Linked DNA regions of Homo sapiens: region 1 is linked to region 2. A link means that fine-mapping ties the variant in region 2 to the expression of a gene that starts in the linked region. Tissue or cell type: gastroesophageal junction. Region 2 holds a variant in brackets; the other region holds the start of a gene. All regions are shown on one strand. Distances are between the middles of the regions. Region 1 holds the start of ZMIZ1-AS1 (ZMIZ1 antisense RNA 1). Region 2 holds the start of LOC112268062 (a long non-coding RNA gene).

What was found.
Region 1: ZMIZ1-AS1 starts here. The variant in region 2 is fine-mapped to the expression of ZMIZ1-AS1 in gastroesophageal junction (GTEx, PIP 0.91).

Annotation. Positions count from the first base shown.
Region 1 is chr10:79,064,764-79,070,125 of GRCh38, forward strand. ZMIZ1-AS1 (ZMIZ1 antisense RNA 1) reads right to left here and starts at 2,685. Exons shown (of 10, transcript NR_024431.2): 1 at 2,625-2,685; 2 at 1,685-1,823; 3 at 984-1,056. It overlaps ZMIZ1 (zinc finger MIZ-type containing 1), which reads left to right and starts at 4,203. Exons shown (of 25, transcript NM_020338.4): 1 at 4,203-4,507. RefSeq lists silencers at 2,244-2,453, 2,494-2,543, 2,644-2,853, 3,654-3,723, 3,984-4,963, enhancers at 3,117-3,962, 5,164-5,213 and a cis regulatory region at 3,836-4,521.
Region 2 is chr10:79,018,181-79,023,542 of GRCh38, forward strand. The region is part of intron 5 of ZMIZ1-AS1 (ZMIZ1 antisense RNA 1); the gene reads right to left. It overlaps LOC112268062 (a long non-coding RNA gene), which reads right to left and starts at 2,777. Exons shown (of 2, transcript XR_007062214.1): 1 at 1,735-2,777; 2 at 1-1,160. RefSeq lists a cis regulatory region at 5,011-5,362 and an enhancer at 5,201-5,362. The variant T/C (reference allele first, on the strand shown) is at 2,991.

The DNA.
Region 1 (5,362 bases), 47 kb after region 2:
GCTCAGCCAGCTATGAGATCTTGAGCAGGTCACTTAACCTCTCTGAGCCTCTTCCCTTAGCAGGGAATGACACCTGGCTTGTGGAGAGAATACAACGAATGTTTCCAAAGTGCGTGGCATACAGTAAGTACTCAATGAATGAGATTTTCTTCCCACCTCTCTAGTCTCAATTTTAGATGTTCCCTGGCTCCCTTAAGTTCCAGAAGTGAGAGGTGGAGAGTGGGGACAGAGAAGGCAGCTCCTGGACAGGTGGGAATCCCCACTGTGTACCCGCCCCCATCCCAGCCCAGCCTAGGAGGCCATACTCGCCGCACCCTACACAAGTCCTTTGCTTCCCTCAGGGACCTCAAGCCTCCCACCCCCACCATCCTGCTGGCCTCCAGATTTTCTGCCTCCTGAAACCTGGGCCCAGGCCCCAGCAATGGTCCTCTCCCCAATCTGCTGGTGGCTCCCACAGGACAGGGAAATTAACAGCACTTGAGTGTGCTCTGAAGGTTGGTACAACCTGGCGGCCCCACACTGCCCATGCCCTCCTAGTGGAGCCAGGTGACTTCTGGGCCTGCAGGGGCTGAGCAGGATGCATCTTCCAGCTCTGGGCCACGAGGAAGTGATGGCACTGTCCTCTCTTGTCTCACCAGCAGATCTCCAGGCCCAGTGAGGCTGAGACTTTGGGGGTGAGGTTGTTGGACACACAGTTCCCAGTGAGTCCTGATGGCACCATGGACCTTACAGGGGCTCAGAGGGGGAAAGCAGCTTGCTTGGGGCTACACAGTCTATGGATGAACAGAGCCAGGGCTGAGGGGACAACAGGAAACTCTGTTCATGGGGGCCCGAGTTCCCATCCTGACCAATCTTGGGCAAGTCATTCACAGTTGAGTTTCCTCTGAAAGGGGGATGGTAGCGGCACCTAACTTAAGACAATGTGACAGTTCAATCAGGGAACTGAATTCTCAATACCTAGGAGGACCCACCACAGTACTCACCACATAGTAGACAGTAAATAAGTCATAGCTTCTTCCAAGACCCCAGAGGTATCCAATCTACCCCATTACCTCCCTGGAAGATGAACAAAGAGAGCAAGGGCCTCAGAGACCCAAGGACTGGAGCCTAGGGAAGACCCAGGACCCTGGTGGGCTTTCTGACTTGCTGCCATGCTTGCACAGAAGGGGAGGGTTGAAATGATCCCTGGTTCCATGCTACTAAGTTGAGCCTACTTGGCTCCTCTGCCCTCTGCAGCCACTTCCTGGGTTTCAGATGTAAATACTGGTGGGAGAGTAGGGGGCTGGGATGTGGGGTAGGGGGTGGAGCTTCTGGACAGGAGACTTTGAACATGAGTGGTCACCTCCGAGGTCACCTGCATCCCCCAATTCCTGGAAGTGGGCAGGCCCTGGATACTTATTGAGGAATCTGGACAGAAAGGTTGAGAGGGCTGGGCGTCCAGACCTAGCTGGTCATTAAGGCAACAAGAACTGGTCTAATTGTGGGCTGGGCTGGATTATCACATCCCAAATCCTTAAATACCCAGAAACTCTCTTTTGGGATTTTGGACCTGGGTATGGGGTGGCTGCTGCCACTGCTGCAATGCTGTGGATTGCTGGGAGTGGGACAGCTGTGGCTGCAGCCACCGTTCTGCAAGCTTAATTCCTACCTTCGGAGGTTTCTCAGGTGGCCCTGGTGTACCTACCTGTGAACTTAGGCCACCCACAGGCTGAGGAGGGGCTCAATCACACAGCAATGTGCTGGGACCATGACTCCCTGGTGTCCCTAGAGGTCTGGAAGTGCTTTCATACCACCCACCCTCTCCAGGGATGCTCAGCTGCCACCTACAGGGAGGGCGGGGGTGGAAGAGCAGCAGTCATCACAGTCCATGTCCATGTGACAGGTAGGAAGACTGAGGCCCCAAAGGAGTGCCTTTTCTTGCACCCAATGGCATAGGGAGGCAGAATTTCCCCTGGGGAAAATAAAATAACGCCCCCACTCCGCCGCCTGCGCCCCCACACACCCCGTCCCCCACGCCCGGGTGGACCTAAGCAGCAGTTTTCTGAGCTTTCAGGAATTCCAGACTGAGTTCACTGGCTGTGAGACTAGCGGAGCCTTGAGAATGAATTCAAAGCTGGCAAATTCATTTTGCCTCCTCTCCCTCGGTGGTGGAAGGAGTGATCTCTCCGGCTCTGAAGGAGTTCAAGCCGAGGTCAGCGAAGCCCTCAGAAGGATGTTCTAAAATGGGGGTGGGGGGTAGTGCTCCGGCCTGCTTCCCCGGTTGGCCCAAGGTCCGCGCTGATCACCGCCCAAGAGGCCCAGGAGACCCGCAAATCTGTGCTGCACGTCCGCACTCCCATGCGGGCCTCGTCAATCAGGAGGCGGCTCCGGCCAGGCCTGGACATCTTCGGCCCGCCCCAGGCCCCGGGGGAGACCCCCGCCTGGGCCGCCTCCGGGTGCCCGCCCCCCGGCGGTGTCATTGTTCTCTGACGTCACGCCTCAGCCCCGCCCCTCTCCCCCCACCCTTCCTCCCCCACCTCCGGCTCCCCGCGCCCCCGACCCTGCAGCCTCCGAAGCCCCGGCCGTGCAAGGCTCCCCCCGCAGCCCGGCCGGGGCTGCGCCCCCTTGCGCTCTCCCCAACTTGCCTTTGTTATTCCAGCTCCCTTCCTCGCCTCGCCTCCGACACGGTGGCAGCCTGCAAAACGTGGAGCGCGGAGTCACTGCCACACCTGGAATCCGAAGCGGGCTCCGCCGGCTCCCGGCCGAAGCCGCCCCCGCCTGCCGGGGAGGGGAGCGCGTGCGTGGGCGGCGCGTGTGTGTCCAAAGAGGGCTGCGCGGGCGCCAATTATGATTGGGACTGGGGGTGCCGAAAATCAGGGGTGGGGGGCCTCGAGGAAGGGGTATGGAAGAGGAAGTGGGAGAGGAGGGCGTGTGTTTGTGTGTGTACGTTAACGTGAGGATTTAGTGCCCAGGGGAACGTTTCGTGTTTTGTTTTTTGATTGTATGTGGGGTTGTGTACAGCGATGTGTGTGTGTAACTGCGTGTCTCTGAGCGTGCCTGCTGTGGCCGTGTAAGCGGGCATCTTTGTGAGGGAAAGTAAGCGAGTGTGTGGGGGCGCGTTTGTGGTTTGGGGGGGAGCGTGTTTGCAATGCTGAGGGAGCGAACGTGTGTGCCGTTCTTGTAGGAGTTTCCGTGAGAGTGGCAGTGGACGTGAGCCAAAGTGGGCGCGTAGTTGGATGCTCTCGGGGGGGGGGGGTGGGTCGGCTAGGGGAACTCCCGCGAGTGGGTGCACCCAACTGCGCCTCGTGAGTACCTTAGCTCTCCGCTATCTCTGGCAGTGCCCAGTCCGGGGCAGAGGGCCAGGCCCCAGCCTAGCAGCTCCCACGCAGCCCGCGCGCACAGCGCCCCGGGCGCTCCGCGCCGGGCCTAGGGGAATCCACGCGTCTCTGGACTGTGCTAGGTGCCGCGGATCAACTGTGGCCACCACACCCCCGCTCCCCCACAGCTGTCGGGGGGCCGCGCTCTAGTCTCCCTCAAAGTCACCCTTGGTGGTGGTGGTCCTCTTCCCACCCCAACCACCAGTCCCCGGGCTGTAGGAACAATTCCAAAGTCAACCCCAGGGGAAGGCTTTGGAGGTCCAGTTACCAACTCGCTTACCCCAATTCGGGTACCTGACAGCGCCCGGGGCCACGAGTGCACTCCAGGCGGGGGCGTGCCAGCGCGGGGCAGGGGCTCTCGGGTGAGCAGTGTGATTTTGGCTTCCTCCCCAAGGTGGTCCCTACCTAGGCTCAGCATTTGTTCCCCTCTCCAAACTTACTGGGGCTGGGGCCTGCAGGGGGGCTGGGGGCTGCAGGGGGCGTCAGGGAGTAGCGGAGGGAGTAGGGCAAGGAGAGAGGTGAGTGGACTGGTGGCGTAGCGGGGAACCAGGAGCCAGGAGAAGAAAAGCTGGGAGAGCGCCGAGACCGAGGAGCGAGGAAGAGAGGAAGAGAAAGGAAAGGAAAGGCGAGGGAGAGAACGAGGAGAGGCGAAAAGGAAAGGGGAAAGAGAGCGCAGAGCGCGAGCCAAGCCGAGCGCCGGCAGCGGCGGCGGCGCGGCGCGGCGCTCCACTCCGGCCTGACTCCGCACCGGCTTTTGCGGGCGGCCGGCGGCGCGGGGCCCTTTGGAAATAGAATAGCCAATGTAATCTGACACTTCAACTTGCTCGGCTCCGGGCGAGTTGATTCACTTACTCACCCCCTAACGCCGAGTTCCTTTTCACTGTCTGTGGACATTAAAAAAGCGAGCGGCGGCGGCGGGCGCCGGGGAGAGCGGGCGGCCGGGCGGCAGGCGGGCGAGCAGCGATCGGGCGGCCGAGCGAGCGAGCAACGCCGGCGCAGCGCGGTGACCCCAGCCCCAGCCGGCGCGGAGCAGGAGCCGGAGCCGAGCGGATCTCGGCGCCCTCGCTGCGCTCCTCCCGGCCCGAGCCTGCCCTACCCGGCGGTGGCGGCGGCGCGTCCTCCAGCGGCGGCAGCGGCGCTCGCAGCGCCCGGTAAGTTTGGGGCCAGAGCCAGGCGCCCGCTGGCTCCGGGGCTACCTCCCGCTCCCCGGGGACTCTCGGGGTGCAAGCGTGGGGATTGGGTGCTGGGGTTTTTCCCTTAAAGTGTCCCCCGGAGCGGGGCGACCGGCCGGCGGCGCGGGCTCCGCTCCGCTCTCCTTGGCGGCCGGGGGCCGAGGCCCGGCGGCCGGCGAGCTCCCGGCTGCGCGGAGCCGGCTTGGGCTGCGCGTGGGGGCCGGGTTTGTCAGGGTGTGCGGGGCGTAAGTGTGGTCGTGCGCGCGCGGACCCGGTGCCCGCCTCCTGCCGGCGCGCCTCCAGCCCTCGCTCCCTACACCCGGGGGCCGGGCAGGACCGGGAATCGGAGGAGGGAGGGAAGGACCGCCTCGGTCTCCTTCGCCTCCTCTGGGGAGATGCGAAGTTGTGCGCCTGTGTGTGTACAGGAACCGCTGGGGAAAGCGCTGGATTTCAGGATGGCAAGGGGTGGTGGTGTTAACTTGTGCGTCTGAATTTCCAGGGAAAACATACACTTTTGTAAATGGGAGGTGGGGGCGCGGTTAAGTTGTTTGTGTGGGAATTGCCCGGGGAAAGCTGGCGCGCGGTACAAACGAGAAACGCGGAGGTGTGTGTGCAGGGTTTTCTCCCAGGGCTTCGCAAGCCAGAGGGGCGCTCAGGCCAGTGCCTGGACGGGGCTGCCCCGGCCAGGAGGGGAGCCCAGGGGGAAGATGTGCGTGTGTGTGCGCGCGCGCGTTGCAAATACGAAAGTAATTTCCCCGTGTTCTTTCTTCCTCTCCGTCTCCGGCGGCGGTGGCCCCGGGGGAGTGGGAGGCCAGCCGGGGCGGAGGTTGGGGG
Region 2 (5,362 bases):
CATGGTCTTTACTCACTTAGGGTCTCTTCTGCCATACCCTATGCAAAGTGCTGGAATTACAGGCATGAGCCACCGTGCCTGGCCTGTGGCCATGTTTTAACACCACCACAATTGCCATGGGTTGCCAGGCAGCCTGGCAGAGGAACACTGCAAGGACCCGTCCCTTCATGGCAGATTCAGAAAGGCTGAAAGGCGTTATGGTCAGTCAGGGAAGACCCAGGAGCCACTCAGGCCCACACAGACCTCTCTGTGTGCCACTGGCCTCTTGCACCCCTCCTTTGACTGTGACGTTCTCCCCTGGAGGGATCAAGAGGTCAAACCAGGCACTCAGAAAGGCAAGGGCCATAGTAGGGTGACCTTGAGTGAGCCACATGATGTCTGGGAGCTTTGCATTCCTTGCCTGCATCATGGCAGATGTTTCCTCTCTCCCACGGTTCTGGGGAAGAACAGAGGAGAGAATGTATATGAAACCCATTCACCCAGTAGGTTCCTGGCCAAAGCAGGTTTCCTTCCAAGGGGAATGGGGTGGGGCGGGGGTGCCACAGGCAGGGAGAAGATCTGAGGGCCTGACTCACTGGGTTCTCTCCCAGGGACTTAACCAGGGTGGCGTGTCTGCACTTGAAGCTGCAGCAGGCACCTCTCAGGCCTGTGGCTCCCAGCTCTAATTACAGATTTCTGGACATGTTTCCTGTTTGGGAGCTGGCAGTGTCCCCGCAGAGGATCCACAGATAATGAGCAGCTGGCTTCAGAGGCTCCATCCATGGGGCACTGACCTGGGAGCAGGCCCAAGCAGGCCCGCCTCAGACAGCAGAAGGCCCTCAAAGGTCATCTGGTCTCAATTCTTCCCCACATCACACTCACACAGGACCAACACCGTGATCACCATGACCAGTCTCTGCTTGCACGGTTCCAGTGATGGGCAGCTCACCACTTCACAGCCAGTCTGCTAATCTCTAGACATCACTCAAGACAGCACTGGAAGCACTTCCCAAATCAGTTTGTCCTTTAACTTCTAGCTATTGATCCCCAGGTCCACCAAGAACAATGAAACATGGAACAGAAGAAGGGCGCAGACCCTGGGATCAAGAAGAACTGGCTTTGGTTCCAATCTTAGTTTTTACGCTTGCAGTCTTGGTCTCTTTGATCCTCAATATTCTTCTCTGTAAAATAAGAATAATGCTATCCAGTATGAAGGGCAGCTGGAAGAGTGGAAGGTCATAACACGTGTGAACACACCTGGCACACAATAGACACCAAGTGCATGCAATTCCTTCCCCTTTCCCTCTTGGACACCTGCATTAGGTAGCTTTTTTAGGATTATAGATCAGAGACACACACTCAGATTCAAGCAAGTGACCGGCCTGAAGACCACAGGTACACTTGGAGGATAAAGGGGACAGAGGCCACCTCTTCTGCCACACAGTGGTGTCTCACGGCAAGCTGGAGGAGCCCAGGGTCCCGAGCCTTCCCCTTTCAACTCCCGAGTGCAGCTGAATGTCTGTTGAATGAAAAGAGGGTGGATGGCTGGCTGGATGGTTGGATGGGTTGATGGATGGATGAATGGACAATGGAACCATTTAAATAGGTTTCTAAAACCTGCCAGGAAACACCCACCCCTTTTAATTCTAGCCAAACTGAATGTCATCTTTTTGTCGAGAAATAGAGTAAAGCAGTGATGTTTAAACTTTTCTAAGCATCAGAAGAGGACTTGTGAAACAGATTCCTGGGTCCTACCTCCAGAGATGTTAATGTTCTAGGGTGGGGCCTGAGATGTTGCACTTCTAACCAGCTCCCAGCTGTGGCTGAAGCTGTTGCTCCACAGGCCACACTTTGAGTGTTGTGGAAGAAAGCAGACAGTCAACTTACAACACCCTTTGGAAAACAAGCACAGGAGCAAGATGAGGTCACTGGCCTGGGAGAGTTCAGCAGGAGGGAGTGCCCCTCCCAGCCCAGGGGTGGAAAGTGTGTTATGACACCAGCCCCTGCCTCCCACCACTTCAAATCTTCTGCTTTCCGTCTCCAGCCTGGGATCTCTCAGAAGCCCCTGTGACACCACAATGGCTTCATGGCAGATAGGGCTCTGGTCCAGAAGATAACACCTCCCCACAGGAGTTCAGGCTGGATGGAAATCTCAATAAACAGGGCGGGATGTGCAGAGGGTAAGGCAGGCCATCCACTCACTACAGGCCTTCCAGCAAGGGCTAGAAGGCCTAGAAAGAAGAGTGTAATCTTCTGGCTTCCCAGACACACACACTTGCACGCGCACACACACACGCACATGGAGGAGGGCCCAAACCTCTCCCCTAGACACCCAGAAGGTCTTCATTGCTTGGGACCCATCCAGCCATGGTTCCCATGGCTGATGGTAGTAGGGCCTCACTTCAATATTCAGGTCAGGCACTAACTTGCTGCATGGCCTTAAACATGTCCTTTCTGTTTTCTGGGTCTTATCTTCCCATCTGTAAAACAAGGTAGATGGATTAGGTCTTGCCTAGAGAAGGAACTGACATTACCTGAGCCACTGATATGTTTATTTATTAACTTTTCTCTCCAAAATATTTGATTGAGCAATTCCTATGAACCAGGACCTGATCTATAGCACTGCACAGGAGAGATGAAACAAAGCTCATGCCTCGTGGAGCTGGCCCCATGCTTTGCACGAAATGCCTGATTCCTATGATCTCATTTAGCCTTTACTACAGTCACCCACAGGAGTTGGGTGCCATCATCCTTGCTTTACAGATAAGAAAACTGAGGCATCGGCAGGGTGCGGTGGCTCACGCCTATAATCCCAGCACTTTGGGAGGCCGAGGTGGGCAGATCACTTGAGGTCAGGAGTTCAAGACCAGCCTGGCCAACATAGTGAAACCCCATCTTTACTAAAAATACAAAAATTATCCAGGCATGGTGGGGCATGCCTGTAATCCCAGCTACTCGGAGGGCCAAGGCGGGAGAATCACTTGAACCTGGGAGGTGGAGGTTACAGTGAG[T/C]TGAGATTGCACTACTGCACTCCAGCCTGGGCAACAGAGAAAGACTCTGTCTCAAAAACAAACAAACAAGCAAAAAACTGAGGCACAGATAAGAGGCAGGGCTGGAGTTTACACTGTCAGTGGTTCCACAGACCATCACGTAACCCTGAGACCTCCACTCTTGACCAAGCCCATGTCCTCTAGTTCTCTGTTTGGGTGAAGGTCATCCCCTCCTCAGCACCCTTCCATCAGCCTCCAAAGTCCACACCCCACAAGGAAGCGGAAAGACTGGAGGCTGCAGGGAAGGTGGTTCACACTCCCCGCCCAGATTTGGAGGTTCCAGGCTGGGCTGAGGCTTCTACTTCCTCCCCGCTGAGAGGGCAGCTCCGGGCCAGGCTGCTCCCTTGGCACGGGGTGCCCTGAATCACAGGTGCTCTAGGGGTGCTGCCAGGTTCTTTTCAGGGCCCCCATCCCCACCCACCCTACTCATCATTCACCCTTAGTGCCCATACATGACCTGAGAGGCAGAGGGAGCCCATCCCTTGGGTGCTAATGCAGCATGGCATCAAAAAAATGAGATCGGTCCAGCATCTGTGCATTTACCCACAAGATTGCAATCCAGAACCTAGAAAGAGGCTATTTTAACTTCAACTTGCAAGGAAGCTTAGCGTCACTATGGAAAATAAACTTGATGTTGAGCTACGCAGGGTGGGACTGGACACCACCATGATCCTGTCAGTACTTGGGGCGTCAAGGTCTCAGCCAGCCTTGGCTCGATGCCTCACTTTCCCACTTTGAAGATGTGCCCAATCATTTTCTACTGCCTGGAAAACTTCTCCTTTCCCTTCTGCCTCCCCTAAATGCTCATTTTTCATGGCTTCATTTACCTACTGCGTCCCCCAGGAAGTTGTTCTTAGCCCCGGCTGCCCCCAGTCCAGCTCAAAGTTCCACCACTGGACGGCTGAGCTCTGGGAACCCGGTGCCCTGCCTAGGCTAGGCTGTTTGCTGGGTTCCTCTGGCCTTCCTCAGGGTAAGGAAGATCACCGCACACCCAAGAGGCCCTGCAGGGCTTCAGGCACCACCTGAGTCACTGCTTTTCTTCGAGAGCCTGCAAAGCTAGAAGGCAGTATTTGCCTTTTACGCTGTCTGATGCAAGCATACTGTGGCATTTTTCTAGAGGATTCAAGACCACGCGGCTCTCAAGAAGTCGAATGCAGAAAGAAGCACACAGGAGAACCCAGTTGCCTCCTCTGAAGTGAATCACCAGAGAGATTCACAAAAACCTAAAGGAATGTCACTCTTCTGCTCAACTTTCTTTGTTTTAGGAAAATAGTTATTTTTTATGAAAAATATACGTTCATGTGTAGTGTTTATTCTTGTTGTTCTTAAAGAATTAAAAAATATTTTGTAATTTCTCAGTTTTAATTTTTAATGTGGTAAATATCCAGAGATATTTAACAATATTTTGCCTAAACCAAAGCTCTTTCGGGTCGTCAACAACTTTTCAGAATGTGACAGGGTCCTGAGGCCAGGCTTGAGGACGGCTGGAGGAAGTGTCCCGCCCACCACAGCTGATTGGATGAAGGGCGGGACCTGACTAGTGGGCAACCAATCCAGAGGCAAACGGTGGTGTGGGAATCGGCAGGGATTGAGGGGAGCAACAGGGCTATGCACGGTGAACTGGGCAGGCAGCCGAGGGAGAGGGCCTGTAAGGAGGCCTGGAGGGAAGCCAGGGAGGAGTTAGGGCCGCAGAGCAGCCACGTCTATAAGGAGCAGGGGCTGAGGTCCAGGCCAGATACACAGGAAGAAATGAATGCAGGAGACGGCGTGCAACAGGAAGAAGCAGAGAAGCAGCGGAGACGGAGGTACCTGGGGATGATGCCAGGACTGCAGCTTCAGGGACTTGTGGCAGATGCACAGGGTGCCTCTGGCTCCCTGGAGCTCCACACTGCAGTCCCAGCTCTGTCTGCAACCCACTGCTTTGATTCACCCAGGTTCCCACAATGATGCTCGTTTCACTCAACCCTCCCGTACTTGAGGTCAGCTGAACACCTCTTTTCTTCCCAACCAAAATAGCCTTGAGTTCTGTCCTGGCTCTGGGATCCAGCGGTCCCTCGCAGTCAACGTGGAGATGCTGAGTGCAGCTCATCACGAGGACTGACATCATCACATATGTAAGGGCCTGGCGTGTGCCGGGCCCTCAACAGGTGTGGCTAATATTAGCATGCTTGCTCCTCCCTCGACTGCTACTGTCATTATTAGCGGTGGTATTAATATCACAGCAGGAAATGGTCTCCAAGGTCACAGAGCTTAAGCTCTCAGTTTTACTGAGGGATGAACAGCAAGGCCAGGAGCAGGTCAGAAGCAGAACTGGAACCAGAGCCCACTCTCCT